Regions from separate parts of the Homo sapiens genome. Here all the other regions are linked to region 3. The links come from fine-mapping of genetic effects on plasma protein levels. Region 3 holds a variant in brackets. A gene starts in each other region. All regions are shown on their forward strands.

Region 1 (4,078 bases), not on the chromosome of region 3:
AGAGGGTAAGCGCTTTGAGAATCTCTGCAGCCACAGGAGGCTGTAAAGCAATGCGCTTTAGCAAGCTTTCTCTGGAAGCAGGCAGCCTGCGCTCAAATTCCGTCTCCCCTAATTATGAGTGTGTGGCCTTGAGCAAGTTACCTGGCCTTTTTACAGCTTGGTTTCTTCATCTGTAAAATGAGGGTAGCCAACAAGGATGGCTGGGCAGCCAATAGGCTTGTTGTGAAGAACAAACGAATTACCAAGATAGTACATATAAAGTGTTCATATAACAAGGACTATTAGCTGTTTTTAATAAGAGAGCCCTGAAGTTTCATTCTACTAAATATCTGGTGATTGGTAACCTAGTGGTAGAGTCCAGTAAAGGGAATCAAGGTGCCATCCAGCTGCGCCAGATGTGCACAGGAACAGTATTGCAGTATTTGGTTAAGTCTAAAAGAGTTTAGAAAATAACCCCTCCCCACCTGCCTTACTTGAGCAATAGTTTGGCTTAGCCCACCTCTTTCATTTCTCTAACTTAAGTGATTATCAGCCTGAGGCTGGCCAAGATGGGTATGCATACAGTATAATTGGTTTGTAAAGTTTCAAAAAAGACAGAGAACTCTAACCACGTATTTCAGGATTTGGTGGTTCTTCTAGACACCAGCCTCCTTCAAACCTCTGGTGTTGTAGGCTAGAAGGGACTTAGGAACCATCTAGTATTCTCTTTCCAGAGCTAAAGACGTGGAAGCCCTGGATAAGGAGTAAGTTGTCTGAGGCCACCCAGCTAGTCAGTTCAAAACCAGGACCAGCTCTCCCGTGGCCTGGTGTTCAGGGTAGTGCTCACTCTTGACCACTGGCTGGCTCTTTGATTTTCTGATCTCCAGCTAACTGTGGGGCCTGTCTGCAGTGGATCCCATGCTTCAGGGTGCATAGTGACGTGCCCTTGGCTCTCCCTGACTGCCTTTCCTGCCCTGGCTCCTCAGACATTTCCAGTCACTCCGGTGGGCTCCTACCACCCACATCCCTGATGTCCTCTCCTGCAAACCTGCCTCTGCCTCAGGGCCTCTGAGGCCCCAAGAGTCCTGCCTGGGGGACCCCAGGAAGGGACGCTCAGGAGGACTCTTCCCTTTGCTCTGGAGCCTGTTTCAGGAAAAAGTGGTGCTTGCTCTATTTCCCTCTGTTCTGGTTCCTCTGCTGCGTTTTTTCCAAGTCTTCTTCACTCTCTGTGCTCGGACTCCCCCAGCCTTGCTCTTCTGTTTTACATTCCTGTTCTCCTCTTTTTCTCTCTCCTTCCCAACCCTTCCCCTTTCCCCTTTTCCTTCCTTCCCTGTGTGACTTGGGGCATTTGCATCTTCCTGGTGCTCCTTGGGCCCTGCCCTTTTTCCCTCTCCCCTTTCCTCTCCAACCCTGCCTATCCCCCACTCTGCTCACCCTTTAACACATCTGTTTCTAATCTGAGCCTCGGAGGCGCCTGTTTGAAACAACAACAAAAAACCCCCACCCTCAGGAACCTGGCACAAAAATTCCTGGATAAACCTTCCCTCCACCAATTCTCCACTTTTCCCAGATACACCAGAAACTAAACACCGCCCTAAAGAGGACCCTGCACATCAAACGGTTCCCCAAGCCTGTTCAAGGGCCCAGATGTGCGAGACAATCTCGATGGCCGACTGGGCGGCCCTCGGTTGCCAGATGTGCTCCTCCGTGGCCAGGAGGCAGGGACTGAAAAGCCGGCTGACTCCAGGGGCTGCAGGGACACCCGGTCAGAACCGGCGTCTTTCCCGGACGCAGGGCTGCGTTTGCCCACGGCCATCCAAACTCCCGCCCTCCCAGAGGCACTCACCTAGCAAGAGGAGAAGGAGGAGGGACATCCCGATCCCCGGACGCGGGCGCTTCCCCGCTCAGCTGCTGCTTGGCTCCGGGGCGGCCGGGCGCCTCCGACGGACCTCGGGCGAGCTGGGCGCGGCGCCTCGGGGTGCGCGCGAGGTGGCTGCAGCCATGTGCCGGGCGGGAGCCGGCCCCGCGCCCCGTGCCCCTGGGGGCAGATGGGCTCCCGGCGCTCGCCCCACCAGCTGGCGCCCGGACGGGAGCCGGGACCAGGGTCAGGGAGGAAAACGCGAGGCGAAAAGGCGCTACCGCTTCGTGGAACACTTTTCCCTGTTTGGAAAGAAAAAGGAGTGAAGAAAGAGAGAGGGAAAAAAAAAATTCAGCTGGAACCACATGGTTGCCTCCTACCGCAGCCCCTCCCTCTCTCTCTCGCTGTTCCCTCCTTCCCTCCCTCCCTCCCGCGCGGCGTTTGGGGTTTGCGGTGGGGGCCGGTCGGGGAGAAGCGTGAGCTGGCCGGGCAGGGAGGGCCGGGGGAGACCTGGGGCCGTGCAGAGGCGGGTGGGTTGAGAGGCGCCGGGCGTAGGATTGATTCTTTGCAGGAGGCATTGGTGACACCTCGGCTGAGAGCCCATGGACGAGGCCTTGTCCGTTCCTAGAGCTCTGCTCTCACTTGGTCCTTCTCTCCACTTCTCTCTCGCTTCTTTTTTACTCTCGTTTCTCTCTGCTTCCACGTCTCTCACAAATCTGGCGTTTCTCTCTTCCATCTCTTCCTCTCTAGGTCTCCTTGTTCGCATTCTTGCCTCTCCCTCCTCGTCTCCTCATGCCCTCTCCCCTCTGTCCTCTGCGCTCTTCTCGCCTCTCCTCTCCCTCCCCGTCTGGTTCTGTTAGTGTAAAGCCACCAGACTGACCAGGCCGACGGCGGGGCGCGGAAGTGGGTGCGAAGGCAGCCAGCGGCCGGCCGACCAGGGCTCTCCCCACCGACTGCCTGCTTTGGCACCCGGCTACCCCCCTTGGCCTGGCTTTCCTGGGGCCTTTCGCGTTCGCTCGCTTTCTACTGTCGGTATTTGCAGCAGCGCTCCCTCAGGTCCCGAGCAGAGCTAAGCCAGCCAGCACCCAGGGGAAGGGGACCCACAGCCCCGTGGAAAGAGGTCTATCGAGATGCTTTGCAGCAAAGTGCTCTGCACGTGGCCCTGGCCAAAATGTGCACCACCCCCTTTCAGAAAGAACATAAGGCAGAGGGAGCAGAATCCCCCTGGTGCCAGGGCCTGCGCGCCCGGGCTCCGGGAACCCGGCCCAGGAGGCTCGCGGAGGGCAGGAGGCTGGCGGCCGGACGGGGGCGGACGGTGGGTTCCGCGGAGCCGAGCAGCCCCGCCCCAGGGTCGGCCCCTGGGAGTCTGCCCTTCACTACCCTGCTGCTCAGCGGCAGCGGGAGGCAGCGAGACTAAGAAAGGGCAGTGAGGGTGGCGCTCAGACCTCAGCTGCCTGGACCTCCTGCCCTGACCTTGTGCCCAGGGCCTCTCAGAAACTCTGGTCCCAGTCTCTGAATGTCCCTGGAGGGCTTCTCCCTCAGCTGCCCAGAGGCATGATGACGCAATCGCTCACCTTCGGCCTCGCCAGAGCCCAGGTTGGAAGCCGGGGCCAGCGCTCTTGAGAAGAAAGATGAACCCCGCCGGGGCCGGTGGGCTGCCGAGTCACACATTTGCAATGAAATGCAAATGTGTAATGAAAACCCGTCCCATTTCGCAGACTAGGAAAGCAAAGGCCTGGAGAGGTTATGGAAGTTTCACAAGGTCACTCAGAGGACTTGCAAAAGCTGGGGCTGTTCCTAGGGCTCGCGGATCAGCTGGAGCATTGCTTTAGAATTGCAGCATTTCTCCACTCACTCCCTCACCCCTTCGATACCGATGTGTTAGCATCCACACTATGCCAGGTGCTTTTTTAGGTGTGAGGACACAAAGTGAGTAGAACTTGGAAGTTGACATTTAAAAAAACCTGGGAGGAGTATGTCATGAACACCAAGTATGGACCCAGAATCATATTATATTATTACGTGGTTTTTATTGGGTCATATTATTGACCTTTTTATATCATTCTTATTATACTGCTAAGGGATAGTCACTGAAAAAAAAATCACCATCCCTTAGCATGAATAGGAAGACAAGGAAACTATAACTTAGAGAGGCCTAAATATCTTGCCCCAGATCACAATAGAATTAAAATGCTTCTATTCCAATATTAATATTCTAATATTTAAAAATATTATTTTTTA
Region 2 (4,078 bases), not on the chromosome of region 3:
TTCCTTATTATGTGGAAGATGTTAAAATTAACTCAACTCCACAGTTGCTCCTTCTGTTAAGCCTTTCCTGAACTCCTCTACTTAATTAGGTAAAAATTAAGCCGAGAGCTTGGTTAAGCTCTCGGCTGTACTGTACATGCTTCTGCCATAACACCTTATTATACTTACTCCTTAGTTGAGAATTGTATTAGACTTTCAATTTCCTTATGAACAGGGACCATATCACATTGGACATTATATCCTCAGTACTAGGATAACATGACCCCAAACATAAGTTTGTGAAAAATGTATGAGGTTGTTGTTTTTCATTTTCACTATCTTAATTGTTTGGCATTTTTACTATCTTAATTGTTTGGCATTTTTAAACACAAACATAGTTGTTACGTCAATTGTTATTGACAAAAGTCTAGAAATTAAATGAATGTGTGTGTGATTTATTTTTATTAATTCTAAAAAATAAAAGTTGCCAGCTCTTAATGGTATCACATCATTATGTTGAATCTGAATCCTCCACATTGCCGAAAATTTCTGAGTGATTTCTGCTGTTATTTTTATCAGCGAAGGTATATCAGATATGTTTATCTAAGAAATAATTATACTTCTATGATGGTATTCCCCTAAATGTTTGTATTACCATAAAAAGATGAAAACAAGATCTCATATATGTTGCCTAAGATAACTATTTCCAGATGATTTCTTCCAAGACAATTCTTTGTAATCTCCACTTCTACTGTTTCAATATCCATTTCTTACAAAGAAGCTCCCAGATGTTGCAGCTAGTGTTTTATCTTGCTCCACCTCCCTCTCCACCCTTCAACCTCAGCAGAACTTATTTGTACATGCTGTTCTTAATTATGCTGATCTCTAGTCCTTGACAGAGTTCCTGGCTCCAGTCAAAGGTGGAAAATGAAGTTATATACAAGCTACTCAAAACCACAGCCGTAAAAATGGACTCTTCGTAAGTTTTTTTGGAGGAAAACGCTTTGTATCCTATTACACATATCCTGTGGCTACAAAAGCTGACATCCCTACTTTTGTCACTTAGCTTCATTTCAAAGAGGTTGGAAATCCCCAATGTCCCTTAACAGCTTACTGGGTAGTTTAGTTAAAAAAAAAAAAAGCCATATTAGTAGGTTTCAGGTGGAGGGTCATTTAATAAATAGAAATAAATAGAAAGTGAATGGAGGGTTTAGTAGGAGAAAGGAAGGAAAACTAAAAGTTATTTGATAAAGAAATAAGGAACAGGATAGTTTTTTTTTTTTAAAGGTATATCCAGATTTACAAAGGTGAAGAAAACAATGATATAATCAGAAGGGAAAGGGCATATTAAAACACAGGCACTGAATGAATGTTAAAATGTGGGATTCCTTTCAACATTCCATTTCTTAAGAACCTAAAGTGTTCCTTTCAGCAATTTTGTGTCAGTCTATATCAGATCAGACAGACATTCAAATATTTTACATAATTTATCATTCTCAGTACTCACAACCACCTTGTAAAGGAAGTTTTATTACTTCTATTTAATATTAAGTCAAGTTAATATGAATTAATATACTTAAAGTATTTAAAACACTGCCAGCACATAATGAGCCCTTTATACATGTTTGTGGCCGTTAATATTTTATAAATAAAGAATATGATGCTACCAGGATACTTAAACAACTCATCCAAAGTTACACAGAAGGAAAGTGGCATACCTGGTTTAGGACCTAGAACCTAGTCCTGTGTATATTACCATGTGAGTCCTTTTCACTAGAACTGAAGTCATATTTTAGCTTTAGATTGGCTGAGTGGCCCAGGAAATAAAATCCTTCTCTAAGTGTGGGAATTATGGAACTGAATATAACTGAAAAAAAAAAATCACTACTATGTCACAGGGCGAGTAATTGGAAATAAAATTATAAGATGCAAGCTAAATATCTCCATTTCTAGGAGGGATAGATCATCTCACACATTTCACAAGGACTGTGGTCTATTTGGACTCCAGGAGACAGGGTACCTGTGCGCCGGGGCTCTGGATGCCGAGTTGTGGCAGAGCCTTGAGAATGCAGGCTCATGGTGGTGTCCCCATCATCATCCAGCATGTCCCTCGTGCTGCTGTACTTGGCCTGCATCTGGATTCCTACAGCGGTGAGAGTGAAATGTGGTCGGATTGCCCTGGGCCGCCGGGCTACTGTGAGCTAGTTCAGGAAGCAAGGCACTAAAAGGCATTCCTAATGTTCTTTCCCAGCGAGGGGCAGGGAAAGTCTCTGACTGCAATTCCTGACTGGACAGGCCCAGCCCCTCTCCTGTGAGCTTGTACTCTGAATGCCAAATCAGTCAGGCTGAGGGGAAATAGCATGTGTTTTCTGTTTAGGCCGTCTCAGTCTAAACAGTTGTCAAAAAGTTGGCCTTTCTCAGGTCTTTTTTGTTTACCTGTTTGCATTTCTCATGTAACTTCACTGTAAAGAAGGCAAGAACTTACAATAGCACGGTGTAGCACTGTGGTTCCTTCAGAGTCTGCAGAATAATAATAACTTGGAAGGACACACATCCCTGTTTCTTACCCATCCTTTAGGGAGTCACTTAGTTTAACCTCTCTGTGTCTTTGTGAAAAGAGAAGAGATTATAGGACCTAGCCCCTTCCTTTCTCCAAGAACAGAGTAGTGGTCTTTCTTATAGTATCTGAACTTGATTCAACATTTTATAGCACATTTGGTACATTATGATCACGAGGAATTATACAATTTACTGGAAGTAAAAACTTTTAAAACTATTACTAACCACCATGTGGTTTGGGGAAGCCAGTTCATTTGTGCCTAAATCTCCTAAACTGAGAAGAAAATGTTTTAGGTAATGTGAAAAAATTCTTCCTGAATCAGTACATTAGAATTATATTCCCATCTTAGTCTGTTTGTGCTGACCTACAACAGGATACCTGAGACCAGATAAATTATAAGCAATAGAAATGTATTTCTCAGCATTCCAGAAGGTGGGAAATCTAAGATCAAGGCACTGGCAGGTTTGGATGTCAGGTGAGAGCTGCACTCTCTGTAGAGGAGGAAGGGTATTCTCACGTGGCAGAAAGCAGAAGGTCAAGCCAGCCAAATGCTACATGTAGCGTCTTTTATAAAGGCCTTAATACCATCCTCAAGAGAGAAGACTTCAAGGACTAATCATCTCTTAAAGGCCCCACCTCTCTCAATACTACCACACTGGCAACACCTGAATTCTGCAGGAAACACATTCAAACCATAACAAGACAGGTATCAGTAACAACCTTGTGCCTTTGGGAGGACAATTAACAATTTGCATCTACATTTCCTAAACTGAAAGACAAGAAGATTGTTTTAGATAATGTCTAAAAGTTCTTCCTGAATCTGTACAATAGACTTATATTACTCTACCAAAACTTTTCCAGATGTTAGGTGATAGGTGGGCAAAATCAAGCATGCTAAATATAAAGGAGTGTCAGAATGCTCCAGTTGGGGTAGCCAGACCATATAAAAGATCTATGAGGAAGTGCACATTGTGGATTCACATGTGTTTCAAGCTGTTTGTTGTTCATCAAATTATTCTAAATTTTTTAAAAATTGGAATTTTTTTTTTTTTAGATGGCAGATTGGAGGCAGTGTTAGCATGACTCTACCACTTGGAAGGACAAAATAGTGAGTAAAAAATTCTCACTGTGGGCCAGCCATGGTGGTCACGCCTTTAATCCCAGCACTTTGGGAGGCTGAGGTGGGTGGATCACCTGAGGTCAGGAGTTCGAGACCAGCCTGACCAACATGGCAAAACCCCGTTTCTACTGAAAATATGAAAATTAGCCGGGCGTGGTGGCGGGTGCCTATAATACCAGCTACTGGGGAGGCTGAGGTAGGAGAATCACTTGAATCCGGGAGGCGGAGGTTGCAGTGAGCCAAGATCACACCACTGCACTCCAGCCTGGGCAACAGAGCGAGACTCCATCTGAAAAAAAAAAAAAAAAAAAAAAACCTTCTCACTGTGAACTCTTTTCCCAAGAAGCAACACAGGAACTGAACAGGAAAACTGAAAGAATCCACAGACTCTTTGAAAGAAGCAGCAGGTTATACCTACA
Region 3 (4,078 bases):
GTGATGTTCCCCTCCCTGTGTCCATGTGTTCTCATTGTTCAACTCCCACTTATGAGTGAGTGTGTTTGGTTTTCTGTTCCTGTGTTAGTTTGCTGAGAATGATGACTTCCAGCTTCATCCATGTCCCCGCAAAGGACACGATCTCATTCCTTTTTATGGCTTTGTAGTATTCCATTGCCACCTTAACTTGTAACAGATTACATTAGTCTGCCTGTTCCTGAACTTCATATAAATGTTCTTGGCTCTGGTTTCATTATGTTTGTGAGATTCAGCCACAGTTTTTCATGTACTTGAAGATTCATTTCCACTGCTGTGAATATCCCACAACTTATTTGTCCATTCTCTGCTAATGGGCATTTAGTTGCTCTCATTTTAGGGCATTTTTTTTTTTTGAGACAGTTTATCCTTCTGTCACCCAGGCTAGAGTGCAGTGGTGTAGTCGTGGCTTACTGCAGCCTCGATCTCCCAGGCTCAAGCCATCCTCCCACCTCAGCCCCCTGAGTAGCTGGGACTACAGGCATGTACCACCACACCTGGCTAATTTTTATTTTTTGAGACAGAGTCTTGCTCTGTTGCCCAGGCTGGAGTGTAAGGGCTCAATCTTGGCTCACCGTACCTCTGCCTCCCGGGTTCCAGTGATTCTCCTGGCTCAGCCTCCCGAATAGCTGGGACTACAGGCACGTGCCACCACACCCCACTAATTTTTTAGTATCAGTAGAGACAGGGTTTCACCATGTTGGCCAGGCTGGTCTCGAACTCCAGGTGATCCTCCCGCCTCAGCCTCCCAAAGTGCTGGGATTACAGGCATGAGCCACCACGCCCAGCCCACACCTGGCTAATTTTTAAGCAATTTTTAGTAGAGACGAGGTTTTGCTATGTTGCCCAGGCCAGTCTCGAACTCCTGGGCTCAAGCAATTCTCCCACCTTAGCCTCCCAAAATGCTGGGATTCCAGGCATGAGTCACCATGCCCGGCTGGGGCTATTCTGAATGAATTCTTGTGCATGTCTCTGGGGCACACTGTATGCACTTCTGTTGGGTGTATAGCCAGCAGGAGAATTTCTGGTCATAGCAGATGCCATGTTCAACTTTAGTAGATATAGTTAAGGTCATGTTAAAAGCCACAATGAGTCAAACCTATGGAAATTCATGTGAAGCTGATATGGTGGCTTCAAGAGAAGAGAGAAGGAGGAGGCATCATGCCACCCTCAGACCTTGGTACCCCACATCTGCTGTAATTCCCTCCTCTGAGATATCAGCCTCAACACTGAGTTTCTGTACAGTGTTTCCAGCCATCTTTAGGTAAAAATAAGTCACACTTGGAAACAAATGGTTTCTCTTATATGCTTTTGTCTGGCAAAAGTATATTGTAAGTGATCCAAAAGGAATTGATTTACAAAATCTGAAAATATCCAAAAACAAAACCTGCCAAATGAATTTAAATTTCAGGTCATCAGAACCATTGCTCTGATGTCACTTTGTGCCACCCTCTGCCCTTTCCACACTCCAACGTTACAGTTATCTTCCAGAACACTGGCTTCAGCCTTGGCTTGTCCCTCCTGATGGGCTGCCCTTTCCTCAGCTCTTCAAGGGCAGTGCCTTCTTCTGCCTGTTCAATTCTCAGTTGGTTCTTCTTTTCTTTTAGCCAATCACTCTCTGTCTTATGACCTGTTCTATTTTCTTTTCTTTTATTTTCTTTTTCTTTTTTTCTTTTTTTTGAGATGGAGTCTCACTCTGTTGCCCAGGCTGGAGTGCGGTGGTGTGATCTCAGTTCACTGCAACCTCTGCCTCCTGGGTTCAAGCAATTCTCTGTCTCAGCCTCCGGAGTAGCTGAGATTACAGGTGCCCGCCACCACACCCAGCTAATTTTTTGTATTTTTAGTAGAGATGGGGTTTCACCATCTTGGCCAAGCTGGTCTTGAACTCCTGACTTCGTGATCCACTCGCCTTGGCCTCCCAAAGTGCTGGGATTACAGGCGTGAGCCACCGTGCCCAGCCGAGCTACCCTATTTTCTTCATTGAGTCTATCCCTTCTTGAAATTATTAGAATGATTTTTCACTAGCTTGTTCAGTGTGAGCTCCCAGTAAGCTCCTGTAATGCCTGGCACATAGTAGATGCTTAAGAAATCTTTCTAGAATGAATGAATGGGCTGAATGAATCATCAGGGAAGCTGGCTTGAGGAAACTTGATCTTGGGCCATCTTCTTGGGGACGTGTGAGCTCCATTTGCCCCTCTGGCCCCTGTGGGACCGAGGTAGTTATGAACTCTGCAAATTGTTGATTCCTTTGTGCCTGCAGATCAGGCACTGCCCTTGTCAGGGACCTCCTTTGGTGCTTGGCTCTGTGCCAGAGGACACGGTGACAACTGAGGT[G/A]TGAATGCAATGTCAATGATTGACTAGGACCAGCACTGGGCTGCATATTTCCAGGCACAGACTGTGGCTGCATCATTAATAGAGGCCTAGAGGCAACCTGAGTCTCCCTCCTTCCAGAGCAATGGCCATGGCCAAGTCTCCTGCCATCAATCCTTGGAGATTAGATGAGAATGGGACTGGGGCTTTGACCCTGCAAGGACTAAATCCCACCAGTGTCCTAAGAGGAGTTTTCATCAAAGTCACATTGCAGAAGATGCGTAAAGCACTGTCTCCTCTCAGCTCAGAGGAGCCCTGGCAAGTAGGCAGAACTGGCCTTACTCATCCTGTTTAGAAAATGAGAAATTGGGCCGGGTGCGGTGGCTCACACCTGTAATCCCAGCACTTTGGGAGGCCGAGACAGGTGGATCATGAAATCAAGAGATTGAGACCATCCTGGCCAACATGGTGAAACCCCATCTCTACTAAAAATACTAAAAATTAGCTGGGAGTGGTGGCACATGCCTGTAGTCCCAGCTACTCGGGAGGCTAATGCAAGACAATCACTTGAACCCGGGAGGCGGAGGTTGCAGTGAGCCGAGATCGCACCACTGCACTCCAGCCTGGCAAAACAGTGAGACTCCATCTCAAAAAAAAAAAAAAAAAAAAAGAGAAATTGGAAGCCTGGTTGTAAAAGGCTCGTTGAAGTTCCCATGGTTACTGCTCATCCTAAAATCCAGGCATCCTCAATCCCTGTCCCAGCTTCATCCTGGCATTCCCTTTGCCCTTTCTCTGGTTAGAAGTAATACTGAGGAAGCAAGCCCAGCAGAAATATGGGTGGGTACTTTACCCTATGCCCACCTGCAGTGGGTGCTTCCAATTCCATTGTATTCAAAATCTAAAACTTTTATTATTATTATTTTAAAATTTAGAGACAGGATCTCACTCTGTCACCCAGGCTGAAGTGCAGTGGTGCAATCATGGCTCACTGCAGTCACAAATTCCTGGGTTCAAGCAATTCTCCCACCTCAGCCTCCTAAGTAGCTGAGAATACAGGTATCTGCCACCACACCTGGCTAAGTTTTAAGGTTTTTGTAGAGACAGGGTCTTGTTATGTTGACCAGGCTGGTCTCAAACTTCTGGGCACAAGTGATCTTCCCATATCAGCCTCCCAGAGTGTTGGGATTACAGGTTGAGCCACTGCACCTGGCTCAAAAACTATTTGTTAAGAACTTAATTGTTCCAGGCATTGGACTAGAATGAGAAAACTAATAGTCTGATAATAATAATGAACACATCTGCCTCTTGCTTAGAGTACAGCGCAATGTAAAGCGGATTTCAACATACTATAGCCTGTAGTCCAAATCTGGCCTGCTGTTTGACTGTATAAATAAAACTTTATTGGAACACAGTCATTCCCATTTGTTAACACGTGGCTGCCTTCACATTGCATCAGCAGATCTGAGTAGTTACAACAGAGACTGCCTGGCCTGTAGGATCTGGAATATTAATAATCTGGGCCTTTGCAGAAAACATTTGCTGACTCCACCACTACTCACTGGGCAGCTTTGAGGAAGTTATTCTACCTTTCTGTGCCTCAGTTTCTCCATCTGTAAAAGCACCTCTTATATTGGGGTGTTATGACATAGGAGAAGGGTCTAGAACAATGCCTGGAACACAGTATATGCTACAGGTATGTGTCAGGCCGTGTGCCTTGCAAACATCATTTTAT
Region 4 (4,000 bases), not on the chromosome of region 3:
GGAAGGCACAGACAGGGCCTGTCCTTGCTGGTCCAACCCACCCCAGCCCCTAGCACCACACGAGGTTCACTGGTTCACTGGCACACAGTAGGTGCATGGCAAATATCTGCCCAAAGAATGAACCTCTGTACTCCCAGTGACTGCCATGGAATGTCGCTCAGTGATGATCTGTTGAATGAACAAGTGAATGAGATGATCTGCCACGGTCCAGGAATGTCTGTGGAAATTCCTCATGCACACAGCAAACAACTCCACCCACCGCCATCCTACCGCACCCGGGCATGGAGGAGCCCCTCATCGGGGGCAGAGCTGGGGGAAGGTCAGGAAAGACTGTTGGGCCTCGGAAAACATCCCACGTGCTAGGTTGGTGCGTTGGGAAAAGTAAAAGTCAGTGCCAGGAGTGCAAGTTCAGGTCAAGACTAGGGAGCTACTGGATGGCCCTGCTGAATATTTTGGGGTGAGAGGCTGAAACAGGAGGACGACAGAGGAGGCTGCCCAGAGTGGGGATGGGGGAGGAGAAGTGCTGGGTGGGTGGGGCAAGAGCAGTGAGGAGCCAGGTCTGGGTGGGGGCTTGACGAGTGACTCAGGAGGGTAGAGGTGCGATGAAGCCAGGAAGGTGAGGCCAGGCAGGCAGTTCCTGGGTAAACACCAGCCTGGTTAGAAAAGTCCCTCTCTTGGCTCAGAGAACAGGGAGGCAGGTATGGGGACTGCCTAGGAGCACCTCGGAGAGAGTGGGGGTGGCTCTGTGGCTCCCCACGGTAGGCTCGGCTCCCCAGATGTGCCCCCACCCACATCTGCCACTAGCTCCCTGCCCACCGACCCCACCCAGTCCTCCTCAAGTTCACTCAGGTCCTCAGGGCCTCTGCTGGCCAAGTGCCTTCTAAGCCTCGGGATTCCTGACCGTAGAATTCCCTTTTCCTCCACCTAAGCTCAGAGTAGGGGACTAGACTGCAAGGGCAGGCCTCTCCCTGCCTCTTGGAGACCTGGGAAGAGGAAAGCTGGGGAACTCGGGTCCCCCAAGGGTGCACTGCATCCCCGCACCACGCACTTTGCAGCTCATTCCACGCAGTCCAGCAACGCCCTGCAGCTATGCATTTTGAGGCCGTGCATTTTGAGTTCCCTTGACCCACGTGGGGCTGGCCTCAGAGAGGTTAACTAGCGTGCCCCAGGTCACACAGTTACTCAGTGAAAGGCAGGGATTGATTCAACTCTTCGGCTGTATGACTCCAAGGCCCGTGGGTGTTCCACACAAGCTTCAGTTCTGTCCCAAAAGTTTTGCTTGTGCCTACCTGGGTCCAAGCTCCCCAAGGTGATAGACGGTGTGGTAAAGTTTCAGCGAGACTCATAGGGTCCCCATCACCACTGAGTGGCCGTTCTGCCAAGCTGGCGCAGAAGGGTTCCCTCGTCCTGCCAAGTTCCCACCCTGCTCAAAGTTTCCCCTCCTGGTCCCCAGGAATGGTAGGCCGGACCATGCCCAGCGAGACTCCAGCACTCGGCAACGTGGCCGAGAGACCCACGGGCTCCCACACGGGCCAGCCCCGCCCCCAGCCCCACGAAGGGTCCTGACTGGTGGCCCCCCTGGATTAGCCCCATGCCGCAGGGTGGCGCCGGCCCGGGGTCCCCGGCGGGCGCCGCCGTCCCGGGCCAGAGTCCCCGCCGCGCAGCCTTGGGCGCCCCAGCCAAGTTGGCGGGAGGCGGCGAGCGGGACCGGGGCGCCCCTAGCCCCTCCGCCCCCGCCCCCCGCCCCTCTGCCCCGCACACTCACCGCCAGCAGCCGCCCGTGCAGCAGCAGCGCCAGCAGCAGCGCGCCCGCCGCCCGCCACCCCATGGCCCGGCCCGCGCCGCTCTCTCGCTCGCTCGCTCCGCGCCGCCCGCTCCGCGCCGCCCGCAGCCGCCCGCTCGCCGGCCAGCTCGGGACAGCGCGGCCCTCTCCCCACCGCCCCCTTTCCTCCCCGCCCGCCCCGCCCCCGCAGCGCCGGCCCCGCCCCCGAACCGCCCCTCCCCGGAGCGCCAGGCCCCGCCCACGGACCGCCCCCGGGCCGCGGGCTCTGCTCGCCCCAGCCGGCCGCGCAGCCTACTAGGCCTTTGTCTGGGCCCCCAGCCCCCTCCGCGCGGGCCGCGGCCCGGCCCGGCTCCCCGCCAAACCCGGCCTGGAGTATGGGATGGGACGGGGCGGGGGACCGGGGGCCCGGGCCCGGGCATGGGATGGGGCCGCCGGGCCAGGCGCTCTCGCCTCCCCGATCCCCGGCTCCCCCGCTTCCCCGCGCGCGCCGCCGACTTCCACGCCCCTGCACGCCCCGCACGGCCGACTCCACTCGCGCAGCTTTTGAAGATCCCGGGATCTCCTTCCCACGCTCACACGCACGCAGCTGCCGCTCCGCGCCACACGTGCACGCCAACTTCCACACCCAAGAACACCTTCACACCATAACTTTACTGCACGAACACACTTGTGCGCTACCCGGGAACACTTTCACACTCTGGACCCAACTCTGAAGTACCAACAATCCTCACCGGCTCACATGCACACTTAACTCGCTTCCAAACTCTCACCTCCACCAGGGACACAGGAGACAGCCCTCACACCACACTCAGCCCCTCACTCACGCATACATCCCAACAAGTCACGGAGCGGGAGGACGCCTTTTCACATAGATTCCTCGCAGGCACGCACATTTCACACACAGGCCCACATCATTGCCTACATGCTTACCAGCTTGTTTTTTTTTTTTTTTTTTTTTTTGAGAAGGAGTCTCGCTCTGTCCCCAGGCTGGAGTGCGGTGGTGGGATCTTGGCTCACTGCAACCTCCGCCTCCGGGTTCAAGCAATTCTCCGGCCTCAGCCTCCTGAATAGCTGGGATTACAGGCGTGCCACCACGCCTGGCTAATTTTTGTATTTTTAATAGAGATGGGGTTTTTACCATGTTGGCCAGGCTGGTCTCGAACTCCTGACCTTGTGATCTGCCCGCCTTGCCCTCCCAAAGTGATGGGATTACAGGCATTGAGCCACCGCACCCAGCCTCAGCCTGTATCTTTTACCTGTTCTCACCCACTAATCACAGTGCCTCATAGTGGGCACTGGGTACTGAACTGAGCTGCCCACCCCACCTGCACCATTTTCCATGTAAATCACTCACACACCAACTTTGAGTCACATAAATCACAGCCCCAGAGCCAGAACCACACCAACTCACACACTCAGGCCCAGACAGACAGACCCTGCCAAAGCCCCATCACAGATGCTCGGGTGGGTGGTAAAATCACAGCCCCATGATCTGTCTCTGACCCAACCGCAGGCAGCAAACAGCACCAAGCCCCCAGACCTATTCACTGCCTACTCTTCAGCTCCCCTCTTCTGCCTGAAATTTCCAGGGCAGCCCGAGGCTGATGGGTGGAGAGGAAAACTATGTGTGTGTAGCTTTGAGGAAAACCTTTTGAGTAATGATAGAGGAGGAGAATAAAACTGAAGTTTCCATTGTTTCCTGTGAGAGTTGCTAGGTTCCAGAAACTCATGGCTGGGTTTGCAGCCAGGAGTGAGGTGAGCTGTGGACAGAAGGAAATGCCCAGCTCACTGGGCGGCACCAGGCCTGGCTCCGGAAGCTATGTTCCCTGTGATAGGGGTCCGCAGGCTCCCAAGCACATTGGGGCCTCTCATCCAGGCATCTGGGGGATTGAAAAAACACTGGCATCCTGACCCCCATCCCAGATAGATCCCCTATCTCCAAAAGATATCTCCAAAATATGCCCTGTGGGGCATATTTCTGTGGGACCAGCTCAGAGTTGTAAAGAACAGAAATTGCATCCACGGTAGTCAGGCCAACTGCCTGGCCCCAACCCAGGCTCCAGGCACAGCACTGAATAAGGTCTATCTCTGATCCGCACAGGGAGATAGGGGTGGACAGAGGAGGGACGCCCAATCTTGGCCCTCAGTAAACTCTTAATCTGATAGAGGTGTGGGGAAGAATAGTCCCTGTCCGGGTATTGTTCTCAGTCTGATAGA
Region 5 (4,065 bases), not on the chromosome of region 3:
GGCTGTGAAAGAGTGCTTTCTTGCGGGTCAGCCCCGACAGGACAGACTTAAGGGCGGGAGGGAGCCCATCCCGCTTGCCCCAACGAACGCGGGCGCGGGGCTTTCCTCGCAGGTTACATAAGGCAGCCGCGGGTGGAGGCAGCAGAGGCGAGCGCACGTCCGTCGAGGGGGAAAGGGGCGTGGGGAGGCGGCCGGGGCGGCCGGTATCCCCCGGGCGTGAGTGCGCAGCGCGCGGGGGAGCGCAGGGCGCGGCGGAGTCGGGTTTCAGAGCGCGGGTGACTCGGGGCGCGGGCCGGGAGCCGGGATTCTGCCCGCCGCCGCCGCTGCCGAGCGCCGCCTTTGTTCCCTGCAGGAAGGGCGAGCGCGGCGGCCAGCGCTCAGCGACCCTTCGTCCTCCGCTAAGCTCCAACGCTCTGCTCGACTAGCCGCGCGCCTTCCGGGGCTCCGCAGACCCGCGAGATGGCACCAAGGTAAGACCCGCTTCTCTGCTTCCTCGCGTCCCGGGCCCCTCCAATACTCTTGCCCGCCTCACCTTTTCTCCCTCGGGCACATCTTGCAGGAGGAACAACGGGCAGTGCTGGTGTCTGCTGATGCTGCTCTCGGTCTCCACGCCCCTCCCTGCTGTCACCCAGACCCGCGGTGCGACAGGTAAGCAACCCGGTCGGAGGGTGGCACCGGCTGCCTCCGCGCCCGTGGGGGAAGTCGGTTTTGGCGGCGGACGCGGCTGCGATGCGTGCCTCATTCCTGGACATAAAAGGGAGTCTTGCCACTCAGTGCGCACTGGCGGTCCCGCGGGCGGCTACCTCCTGGCAGTGCAGGGGTTATAGCTGTGAATGGGATCCCTGGGCAGCTGGGGCGGTTGGAGCGTTGTCTGGGCACCCGAGATGTCTGAGCTGGGTGCGGAGCCTCCAATCTTAGGCAGAGAGGGACTTCAGAAACAGCGCCAGCGCCAGCGCCAACAGCCTCAGCGCACCCAGCGCCAGCAGCTTAGGTTGTGCGTGCTGGCTGGCTTCTGGTAAGGGCAGGTCTGGTGCCTCTCCGCACACAGGTGCGAAGCATGAACACCGGGAGGGACATCTGGGGCTTTTGCTGCTCAAGAAATAACGGAACTGAATTGCTCGGTTGCTTAACCCAGCTCTGAGTTACCTAAGCGGTCACGTCTATCATGGGCAGTGGCTCCACCGGTGGTGGAAAGAGCTGTGGCCTGGAAGCCAGAGATCTGATCCCTTCCGTTCCCCGGGCCTCAGTTTCTCCAGCAGAACTCAGGCGGTTGGCTGAATAGTAAGATATAAGTTAAAGTAGACCTAAGTTAAAATGGGCCTCGGTTAAGGTCAGACTGCCTGGGTTTGAACTGTGGCTGGCTGAGTGATCTTGGGCAATGGATTTCATCGCTCTGTGCCTCAGTTTCCCCATCTGAAAAAGGCGATTAATTAGACCATTTTACCTTCCTAGAAATGTTGTGAATATTAGAGAAATTAGAAATAATGTGCTTCCCATGATTCCAGTATATACTAGGCACAAAATAAGTGATAGAAATTACTGCTTGATTCTTGCAGTAACTATGTGTTGGAAAGCAATGCAAGTATTTTTATTTTTATTTTAGATTCAGGGAGTGGTCATGTGTGGTTTTTTACAAGGGTATATTGCACGGTGCTGAGGTTTGGGCTTCTATTAATCCCATCGCAATGCAGGTATTTTTATAACATTGAGGTTGAGAGAAGCTTAGAAAGTGGCCAGTCCAAAAGCCAGGACTTGAATCCAGGTCTGTAGGCTCTTGCCCTTGCTCAGCTCTTTCTCCATGCAGTTTTGCAGAAGAGCCATGCTTTCTATAGCTTCTGACCCCCTCCCCTTTGAATTTGGGGGATTAGTACACATCTTCAATTGAATAAGGGAACAGAAAGTCTAGGAAACAACCTCTAGTCGGCCCAAAGGAAACGGGATTGAGAAGGTGGCCTTGGTTAACTCTTTGTTTGCCTGAAGAAGCCCAAGACAGCCCATTGTCTCCTGGGCAACAAGACCCAAATCCGATGATAGCTTTTCCTGCCAGAGTGTCCAGCCTGGCATTTATTGCAGATCAAAGGGCAGCTGGAGTATAGTTTTAGCTTCTCAGCCCCATGGCTCATGTCAGAAAGTTGCAATTTTGCATATGATATAGGGCCCTGCCAACTCAGTGGCAGAGGCCAACTTTGGGTTCCATGGTCTTTTGTGAACTTTGCTGCAACTTCCAGTTTCCCAAAAGGAAGATGGATCTGGGGATAGGAACTTTGGTGTTTCTTTCTCCTCCTGTGTGTGTCTCTGGGATCCCTCAGTGTCAGGGCTGTTGTTTCTAACACAAAGGAAGCCCTATTCCCATTTATAATGTAAAAAGGGAGGGCCAGCAAACCTTCAGGAGCTGAGAACGGTCTAAGGAGGGCCATTTGCAACTGATGGGTTTTCAGTGCCCCTTTGGGGATGTGAAACGATTCCTAAAAATGTAAACTATCCTCCTGCAAACTGCATTTGTAATGCAATTTAATATCCCTAATACTTATAAAACACTTTGTATATCCAGGTGGAGGTGTGAACATGTTCATATTTCATTCATCCAATCCTTACAACCACTCCAGGAGGTGAGGACTGAGAACAGTTACTATCTCTGTTTTTCAGATGAAGAAACAGAGGTCCAAAGTCACAAGACTTCTAAGTGGCTGGGGTGGGATTTGAACCAGACAGTCTGACTCCAGAGTCCTTGCTCTTAACCATCCTAGTGTGTAGTTAGAAGAGCTTCACGGATGGAGAAGGCTTTAGGGGTTCCATGGTCTCCAATGAGCCCCACAATCTGAATGTCACAATTGTAACATGAGTCCATTGCATGGCATTGTGCAGTCTTCAAAGCACAATGTCACCTTCACCACGTCCCTGGAATCACCACCCAGCAGTGCTGAGAAGTAAATTGGGCTCTGTCTTACAGAGGGGATGTGACTTCCTCAAGGCCGCATGACTGTAACTGGGTAGATCCATAATAGCCCTCTCACGTCTGTGAACTTCTGGGCTGGTGCTGTTCCTTCCATAGGACCACTGCCCAACTGGCTATAAAAAACAATTGCCAAGACTTCATAGCACTATGAACCAGCAGTGTTTTAAGTGCCCTGCCATGAATGAGCTCAGTCAATCATCACAACAACCCCATGTCTTATCCCCTTTTACAGATGAGGAAACTGAGGCACAGTCTTTTGCCCAAGGGCATGTAGCCTTCAGTAATATAAGCACAATTTGAGCCCAGAGGGTCTGACTCCAGAATCTGTACTTGTAACCACTATGCTGTATGCTTAAGTGGGGTGGCTTCTGAAAGCATGTTTGTAAGTGGGCTGTTATGAGCGGAAATACATGTTCCCAACGATTTGGCAGTTTCTTAAAATGTTAAATATATACTTACCCTACAATCTAGAACTTCCACTCCTAAGTATCTACTTAAGGGAAAGGAAAGCATATGGCCACCCAAAAACTCATATGTATGTTCATAGCAGCATTATTTATAATGACCAAAACTGGAAATAAAGTTAAATTCACCATTAGCTGGTGAATAGATAAACAAATGAGGTGTATCCATTTAATGGAATACTACTCAGCAATAAAAAGGAATGAAGTATTGATCAATGCTACAACAACATGGATAAACCTTAATACCATTAAGCTAAGTAAAAGAAGCCAGACATTAAAAAGCAATACATTGTAAGAGTCCCTATATATGAGATTTCTGTAAAGGCAGAACCACAGAGACAGAAAACAGAAGCAGAGATTGACTGCAAAGGGGCATGAGGAAACTTTTTGGGGAGTGTTCTAAAACTGGATTGTGGTGGTAGTTGTGCAACTCTATAAATTTACTAAAATAATCTAACTATACATTTAAAATGGGTGAATTTTATGGAATGTAAGCTATGCCTCAATAAAGCTGCTTCTTAAATAAAAGAATGTATTTTCCCAGAGCATCTAGGCCCCAGATCTGGTGGGGCTTCAAGGTGGGGTTCCTAGCCAGCCTGGTACAGAGCTGGCACACAGCTCACAACTTAAAAGCTGCTGGCCTCT
Region 6 (4,078 bases), not on the chromosome of region 3:
TAGTTTTTATGTGTTTTACATTTAATATTGCTAACATTGAAAAAACTATTTTAATATTGGCTATTTTGTTGTAAACAAAATGAATGTAAGAGGAGTTTACAAGTTTGTTCATATCTTTACCAGATCATGGTTTTGTGATAGATAAGCTAAGTTATATGTATACAATTTTCTGTTAGCTTAGACATCAATTGTAGAAAATACCATTGTTCACAAGATCATATTGATGATTTTGTTTCCAGTTTTTTAGAGCCCAATAATGGCTTAGTTATGAAAACATTTTAGCATACGTATATACCTATTTAAATGATTCACGTTTACCAGAGTACTTAATTTATTGAAAGAAACATCTTGAAAGGCATTTGAGAGGATACTTCCAAAATATTTATTATAAATACATGTTTACTATAAGTAATTTTATTCATAAAATAATGAGGTTCAAATAAAAATACATTATGCACTCTTGTTTATATTATTTCAGGATTAATGTAGCTTTGGTAATCAACTTTCAACATTGGCATTTGAAATAATAATCTTAAAAACCTTACTGAACTTATTTTTTTTGAAGCCACAATACTGAAATAGTCTTAACATGTGGATTATATGCTCATCTTTAAAATCATTATCTTGGAACTGCACTTTGCTGTAAAGTTGAAGCAGACTACTCATTGCAGTTGTTTAAACCACAGCCTAAGAAGTGCTACCCTTTGCTTAACTATTCAGCTTCAGTTTGAATGACATAGTTATTGCCTTTGAGTGAGACCCAAAGGATTCTTTTCCCAGGTAGCAGCTCTTTCAAGTAGTAAAGATGTTTCAACAGCTCTACTATTCTATATGGGGTTTGATTTAAAATTGAATTTTCTGAAATCCAAATAATTAGAACATTATTTTTCCCCTGATAGCTATCATTAAAATCTCTCAAGTTAAAATGTCTTTTCTGTTGAATTCAGGCTAGAGCATTGACACATGCAGGTGACTATATGTAATTTAAGCAATTCAACTAGTTGGGATACAGAAAAAATGAAATACTTGTCCCAGACAAAATCTTTAGCAACATATTGAACATCCTCTTTAAATCAAATTATAGCAATAACAATAACAATTTACAAAGTTATGAGTATTTTCATCATGTATTCAAAATGATCATTTCTCTGTAATTCATGGTCACAGCCAAATTACAACCCAAGATAATATTTTGCCCTGGAAAAAGGAAGAATCCAGTGTTCAGGAAAATCCTAAGTTAACATCTTAGAACTAAAATTAGGAGATAATAATGTAAGCTCTTTCAAATATACAAGTTCAGAAAAGAATTTTATGTGGTTAGTTAATTCAGAGCTCTTGTAAGATAAATATCAAAGAAAAAAAACCTAGTTCCAAAATGGGTTGCCTTTATGACTAACATGCTTGACAGCCTTTGTATCATTGGAAACCTACTGTTAAGAATATTAAACATATAAATTATACCCCTGGCTTCGTATCTGGCTCTTAGTGGCAGAAATAATAAATTTTGGAAAGAAACAAGATATTGGGCTTGGTTAACTTTACATTAATCTGTGTATTGACACTAAAATCCTTAACTTTTTCACTCTTTTTTATATGATTATCTAAGTAACATTCTGGTTAGTAAATATCCAACATCAAGTAGTATAAAGCATAGACCCGATCATGTATATACACATATGTAGTGTCCTTACATTGGCTGATGAGCAGCAGGTTGCTATTCAGTTATCCTATCGACATAAGCTTGCCAAACAGTCTTTTTCTTCTCAGCTAGGAATTAAAAGAAGAGCATGCAATTTGGAACTTTCCAATAAATCAAAGAGAAAAGCAGCCTTACCTCTTTTTGTTTATATGGCAGAGGAGCTCCACAGCATATTCCTCCCCGTTCTCCGGGCGAGCTTCTCGGGCCGTTTCAGCACACGGACAGCTCCTCTGCTTATAGGGAGCCGCTGCGCCTGACTCCGCACTGCCACACTGACGTCACCGGGTTCAGCCACAAACCCCAGCACAAGCGAGGTTTTTCAAAGAACCAAGAGAAAATAATCACTTTATATTTAAAAAAAAAAAAAAAGAAAGAAAGAAAAGAAAAGAAAAAAAAGTTGCATGCTTACGCCACCTGTCTTTTTGTGGCAAAAATTGCAGTTTTCCTTTTTCTTTTATCAAAATCTTTGAGACGGAATAAACTGCTCTGCACGATTTCTCTTACAAAGAAAGAAATGTGTGTCAGACAGACATGGCTAATTGCAAGACAATCTCATCTATGTTCTAGCAACTTGTTATAATAGTTTCTTGGTGTCACTGTTGTAATTGTTGTCGTCGTTGTAAGAAAGTTTTACAGACAAGGATTATTTTTTCATCTTTGCCCACAAAGAAATTACATTACCATTTCCTGTTATAACCAAGATGAATGGAGGACACATTATAAATATGAAAGGCCATATTTCTTATCATGACCACAGCCATCATTCTTTTAAAATCATATTTATTTGAATAAAACAGAGAGTTCTCTCTCTTTTATATGAGAGCCAACTTTAATAGCTTATATAGTTTTTTAAATGGGTATTTATCAGACTTCAAGCTTAGTAGCTAATAATTCTTTATATCTCTGTTACTGTCTTTCACAATATCTGATCTCAGAAAGGGAAGCTCAGAAGTTGAGTGCTGATGAAAATACTTTCATCTACTTAAAAAAAAAGTCTTTTCACTGTTTGGGAAAAATGTGACACATACGTAACTAGAATTCATTTGCAATCGAAAGGAAGTTGTACTATAAATATTTCCCTTCTCCTGTTGAATCAGATGAGTTGAATACCTTCCATGAATGTGAACAATCCAGGGAATAATACAGCAATTAACTTTCAACCTCTCAGATTTATAATTCATAATCATTCCTCTGCCTTACCAGATAACCTGATTATATATTTCAATAATTTATATGGATATAAATTTTAAACTTTATTTTATTAAAGATATGAGTTTCTAAAAACTGTATATGTTGACATATACTTTAAGAATGCAACAGAATCTTGCCATATAAGAGATCCCATGTGTTTCTGCTAAATGAACAATCAGCCACTGACTCAATAAATTGTAATACCTACTAGGTGCCAGATACATTGCTAAATGCACAATTGTTAACTAATACAAAAATAAGTGATTTTTTTGCCTTTGATGAGCCTTTCAGCTAATGGGGATGACATGCAAATAAACACATAATTTTCATATAAATTGGAAAGCATCAATAGAGAGGTTAGCTAGCAGTGTTTGGACCATTTGGATAGCCAATGGGTTCAACCTAGAAATTCAGGGGGAAACAATGTCCTGGAATAAAAGGCCTAAGCTGAGATTTCTCACTATCAGGTTTTCTTACAAGGATTTCTAACTATGTTAGTACTTTTGAATTCCTCGAAAAAATAGGAAATGGCTTAAAGTCTTACAGAAAAAATCTTGGAAAAATGTGCCTCGATTCTCCCTATTTGGTTTTCCTAAACGACTAGGAGATCATCATTTGTGGATTGATATGAATTCATATACACTCAGACTGGGGTTATATGTCCAATTCATCCAACAAATTTTGCCTCATAGTGGTTTTTTAGGGCATGATCAAATGCTGGGTTGAAGAGACCTAAATATGACCCATTTCTCAAGCATCATCTCAATGACACCAGCTCATTCACTGACATCCTTAGCTAAGATTGCCTTAAATCTTAACAAAGCCCTGGCTAGCTGCTCCAAGTTTGACCTAATTTTCTGTCCAGCAGTTCTGTGTGACCAGTTCAACTAACCAGTATCAACGCAGCTTTAGAAAACTCTGCAATTATTCTTAAAATGTTGAGTTTGTTCAGCATAGGTCTCAAAAGCCCTCCAGAAAGTCATCCTGACTAGGCTAATTCATTTATGTGGAACTAAACTTTTTGGCAAGAACCAGAAGCTACGGTTCTTCTAAAGCCCCAGAGTCAACATCTTGCCTGGAAATATCTTCAATCATCCAAAAGACATGCAAAACCTCATTCAAAATCTCCAAGTAGATGTGAGATGCCAGGAGGCTGTTGCTGGGATGGATTGGCTCCACTAGGCTCAA
Region 7 (4,078 bases), not on the chromosome of region 3:
TAATTTTGCCTAATACTAGTATCATTTTTTTGGATTACACATATAATGCATGCTATTACAATTTGGTTATAGAAGTATATAATGAGAGATTATTTTTCCCCCATAATCCCAAAGGCATATATCACTCCAGAAATTTGTGTTTAAAAATTAGGATATGTCTATTTTACTCTTTCCTTATCTCATAGAATGTTTTGAATTAAAGTGTTTATTTCAAAATAAAATACTTAGGCCAGATGTGGTGGCTAACGCCTATAATCCCAGCACTTTGGGAGACTGAGGTGGGAGAATCACTTGAGCCCAGGAGGTCGAGGTTGCAGTGAATCAAGATTGCCCAACTAGGCCAGGCGCGGTGACTCACGCCTATAATTCCAGCACTTTGGGAGGCCGAGGCAGGTGGATCACAAGGTCAGGAGTTCAAGATCAGCTTGGCCAAGATGGGGAAACCTTGTCTCTACTAAAAATACAAAAAAATTAGCTGGTAGTGGTGGCAGGTACCTGTAATCCCAGCTACTTGGGAGACTGAGGCAGAGAATTGCTTGAACCCAGGAGGCGGAGGCTGCAGTGAGCCGAGATCACGCCACTGAACTCTAGCCTGGGCGACAGAGTGAGACTCTGTCTCAAAAAAAAAAAGATTGCCCTACTGCACTCCAGAGTGAGACCTCATGAAGAGAGAGAGAGAGAGAGAGAGAGGAAAGAAAGAAAGAAAGAAAGAAAGAAAGAAAGAAAGAAAGAAAGAAAGAAAGAAAGAAAGAAAGAAAGAAAGAAAGAGAATTGAATGTGGCTGAAAAAAATCGGAAGGCACAAAAAAATACAATAAGGATTAACTCTCCCTCCACCTCCCACCCTCTGCCCCCATCCCACATTACCCACTGTCACTATTTCCTATATACATGTGTCTATGCATATACATCTAACCACACCCTTTTTGTTTAAACACAAAGGGCAGCCTGTGACACACTGTGCTGCATCTTGCCTTGTTCATTTAGCCATGAATGTTGTAATTCACAGCAGTTAAGCAATTTCTTTGGCCTAAAACTTTATTCTGGTCCTGCTCACTAGTTAACTCATAGCCATACAACGGTACCCAAAGAACATCTACATTAATCCACCACCACCATCCCCTCCCCTTCCCCTACCCCATTCTCTGGCTTCTAACCCCCCTCTACTCCCTTCTTCCCGCCCAGGGCACCTACTCACTTACCTGCCAGATGTAGGATGAGGCTTAAGATGACCACTTGAGGATGCATTATGGGATCAGCCTGAAGGAAAATGAGCAGACAGGCTGGTTGGTACCCTCCACCAGATGGTATCTGATCAAGTCTTAAATCTCAGATTGCAACTTATCTTTTCACCCAGTTGGTTGATTCATATGAGCCTGCTCTGCTGGAAATGAGAGAAGACCACATATAACGGCTTCAGAGCTCTGTTAGTTCCCTGCAGCTGAGAGCTCTGTGCCTTCCAAAGGACAGGGAAAGCTGTCCACAGAAACAGCCCCTGACTTCCCAGCTTCTTCCCCACACATAACCGCCAAACTGACTCCTGGTCCTGATACAGGGTATCAGGGGAACAAACAAAAAGGAAACAGGGCCGGGCGCGGTGGCTCAAACCTGTAATCCTAGCACTTTGGGAGGCCAAGGCGGGCAGATCACGAAGTCAGGAGATCGAGACCATCCTGGCTAAAAGGGTGAAACCCCGTCTCTACTAAAAATACAAAAAATTAGCCGGGCGTGGTCACTGGCGCCTGTAGTCCCAGCTACTCGGGAGGCTGAGGCAGGAGAATGGCGTGAACCCGCGGGAGGCGGAGCTTGCGGTGAGCCGAGATCGCGCCACTGCACTCCAGCCTGGGCGACAGAGCAAGACTCCGTCTCAAAAAACAAAACAAAAAAAAAGAAAAGAAAAGGAAACTGGAAGCAGAGAACCAGCGTGGCTCAATGGCAGCACGAGAGCAAATGCCAGCCTTCCAGTGGCAGAGATGCACTTGCTTTTCAGAGTAAACTGGGCCTCTGGTGGACGTGGAGCTTTTCCTACTCAGTGGCCACAACGACTTATCCCTAGCCTTAACAGTCATATTGCCAAGTTTGCCATTAGCAAGAGAAATTGAGAGTGAATGTGAATCACTGTGCCTAACCTTTCATGCTCCTGTACAACATGCTTCAGACTACACCTCCTTACCAAGGGACTTCAAGAGAATGCTTCAGGAAACAGAAGTCTGGAGCAGACTTACGTTCAGATCCAGGCTCTGTCACTCACAATGCTGGGTAACCCTGAGAGTTCCTGAGTTCTCTTCAAACCTCTATTTCCTCAGTTGTAAAATAGCACTAAAAATGCTTCCTCTATCTCCCACCAAGGATTGATATAATAAGCAAAAAGGGCCACGGAAGAACTTGGAAAACTAAACCTACATCATATGCAGTAATAGCACTAGCTGAGGTTTTTGGAGAATACTATATAGCAGGCTCTGTGTCAAGCACCCACATGCGTTAAATCGGGCTGTTGACTTCTGCTGTTAATCATTAAACCATACAAACATGAGTAAGCTTGCCTAGTACTTCATTAACTCCTCTTCTGGTCTAAGAATTCAGTAACTTCCAAGGAGGCAGTGGTGGTCTGTATCTTGCAGCTCATGACAGGGTTCATGGGGAAGTGGATGATCTCAGCATAGTGTTTTGTATGGCAGCGTTTAAAAATTCATTTCTTGACCGGGCATGGTGGCTCGTGCCTGTAACCCCAGCACTTTGGGAGGCCGAGTAGGCCAGTCACCTGAGGTCGGGAGTTCAAGACCAGCCTGGCTAACACGGTGAAACCCCGACTCTACTAAAAATACAAAAATTAGCTGGGGGTGGTGGCGGGCGCCTGTAATCCCAGCTACTTAGGAGGCTGAGGTAGAAGAATTGCTTGAACCTGGAAGGTGGAGGTTGCAGTGAGCCGAGATCAAGCCATTGCACTCTAGCCTGGACAACAAGAACAAAACTCCATCTCAAAAATAAAAATAAAAATTCATTTCTTGCCAGGCACAGTGGCTCACGCCTGTAATCCCAACACTTTGGGAGGCCAAGGCAAGTGGATCACCTGAGGTAAGGAGTTTGAGACCAACCTGGGCAACATAGCAAGACTCCCTCTCTGCAAAAAAAACGAACAAAAAATATAGTCAGGCCTTGTGTACCTGACCGTAGTCCCAGCTACTCAGGAGGCTGAGGCAGGAGGGTTGCTTGAGCCCAGCAGTTGGAGGCTATGATTGTGCCACTGCACACCAGCCGGGGTGACAGAGCAAGACCCTGTTTCTTAAGGAAAAAAAGATTGAAAAAAAAAAGCTAATTCAATTCAACCAGTTATTACTAACATATTGAGCTGATGGGACATGACTCAATATACTAGGGACGTCAAAAATCCAGACTTGTGCAATCGGGCAGGGACATGGGTAAGTAAGCAACTAATGAAATCAGGATAAGTGAGGTAAAGGTAAATATATAATCAGACTACATCATTCCCCCACTTATAACCCTCTCATAACTCTCTCAGAAAAATAATAATAATAATAATAATAATAATTCCTAAATCTTTACTCAAATTACTGAAGCCCTGGTGGTCTGGCCCTGACCTACCCCATAGATTTCTTCTACCACTCTCTCCCCTGCTGACTCAGCCCCAGCTACTAGAGCTTTCTTTCCAACTTGCCTCAACCCTAAGGCCTTTTCCGTGGCTGTGTTCTCCATCTAGCTCCCCAGCCCCACCATTTTCACTTTTTTCCTTTTCATTTTTATCCCGGCTTAAATATGACCTCCCTGGACATTTTTCACAGGTCCTTCAATCTAAAGTAGCCAACCAGTCCCTCTCACTATTATTATCTTGTTTTCCTTAATCCATTTTATCTGTGTGTGCAATATATGTGGTGTCTGTCTCTATTCCCTCCTATAGAGTGCTGCCCGGTAGAATTTTAGTAATGGAGTTATTCTGGTAACGGAGTTATTCTGGAACTGATGAGCCACAGAGAGCCAAGACAGGGATGTGGAGCCAGTGCTCTGAGATGTTACATAACTGTACAATTCCATAGGATTTGAATTTGAATTCCATAGGATCG

Which allele goes with the higher level. Alleles are on the strand shown, and positions count from the first base shown. The strength of an association depends on the size of the effect and on how common the allele is.
In carriers of allele A in region 3, the plasma level of the protein whose gene starts at base 2,161 in region 1 tends to be lower than with G alone (weak association).
As copies of G replace A in region 3, the plasma level of the protein whose gene starts at base 2,177 in region 2 goes up (weak association).
With allele A in place of G in region 3, the plasma level of the protein whose gene starts at base 1,921 in region 4 is lower (weak association).
For the plasma level of the protein whose gene starts at base 305 in region 5, allele A in region 3 goes with a lower level than allele G (weak association).
For the plasma level of the protein whose gene starts at base 1,911 in region 6, allele G in region 3 goes with a higher level than allele A (weak association).
For the plasma level of the protein whose gene starts at base 2,420 in region 7, G is the high allele of the variant in region 3 and A is the other (weak association).

What was found. PIP is the chance, under the fine-mapping model, that this variant and not a neighbour inherited with it causes the effect. Protein levels are from antibody-based Olink assays in UK Biobank. Linkage for the fine-mapping came from a reference panel and not from the study's own genotypes, which makes the PIPs less certain.
Region 1: it holds the start of CLMP, and the variant in region 3 is fine-mapped to the plasma level of the CLMP protein (UK Biobank, PIP above 0.99).
Region 2: CLEC1A starts here. The variant in region 3 is fine-mapped to the plasma level of the CLEC1A protein (UK Biobank, PIP above 0.99).
Region 4: HSPG2 starts here. The variant in region 3 is fine-mapped to the plasma level of the HSPG2 protein (UK Biobank, PIP above 0.99).
Region 5: COL15A1 starts here. The variant in region 3 is fine-mapped to the plasma level of the COL15A1 protein (UK Biobank, PIP 0.97).
Region 6: it holds the start of SCG2, and the variant in region 3 is fine-mapped to the plasma level of the SCG2 protein (UK Biobank, PIP 0.97).
Region 7: it holds the start of HAVCR1, and the variant in region 3 is fine-mapped to the plasma level of the HAVCR1 protein (UK Biobank, PIP above 0.99).

The regions. Positions count from the first base shown.
Region 1 is chr11:123,193,088-123,197,165 of GRCh38, forward strand. It overlaps CLMP (CXADR like cell adhesion molecule), which reads right to left and starts at 2,161. Exons shown (of 7, transcript NM_024769.5): 1 at 1,826-2,161. The coding sequence starts at 1,853.
Region 2 is chr12:10,096,809-10,100,886 of GRCh38, forward strand. CLEC1A (C-type lectin domain family 1 member A) reads right to left here and starts at 2,177. Exons shown (of 6, transcript NM_016511.4): 1 at 2,000-2,177. The coding sequence starts at 2,114.
Region 3 is chr16:20,378,640-20,382,717 of GRCh38, forward strand. All of the region lies in intron 3 of PDILT (protein disulfide isomerase like, testis expressed), which reads right to left. Among named protein-coding and RNA genes, the nearest start is that of PDILT, 24 kb to the right of the region's middle. The variant G/A (reference allele first, on the strand shown) is at 2,371.
Region 4 is chr1:21,935,390-21,939,389 of GRCh38, forward strand. It overlaps HSPG2 (heparan sulfate proteoglycan 2), which reads right to left and starts at 1,921. Exons shown (of 97, transcript NM_005529.7): 1 at 1,766-1,921. The coding sequence starts at 1,828. RefSeq lists an enhancer at 371-1,212 and a silencer at 1,960-2,309.
Region 5 is chr9:98,943,603-98,947,667 of GRCh38, forward strand. It overlaps COL15A1 (collagen type XV alpha 1 chain), which reads left to right and starts at 305. Exons shown (of 42, transcript NM_001855.5): 1 at 305-470; 2 at 560-648. The coding sequence starts at 460. COL15A1-AS1 (COL15A1 antisense RNA 1) reads right to left here and starts at 1,050. Exons shown (of 1, transcript NR_198999.1): 1 at 1-1,050.
Region 6 is chr2:223,600,451-223,604,528 of GRCh38, forward strand. It overlaps SCG2 (secretogranin II), which reads right to left and starts at 1,911. Exons shown (of 2, transcript NM_003469.5): 1 at 1,835-1,911.
Region 7 is chr5:157,056,697-157,060,774 of GRCh38, forward strand. It overlaps HAVCR1 (hepatitis A virus cellular receptor 1), which reads right to left and starts at 2,420. Exons shown (of 9, transcript NM_001173393.3): 1 at 2,225-2,420; 2 at 1,202-1,259. The coding sequence starts at 1,247.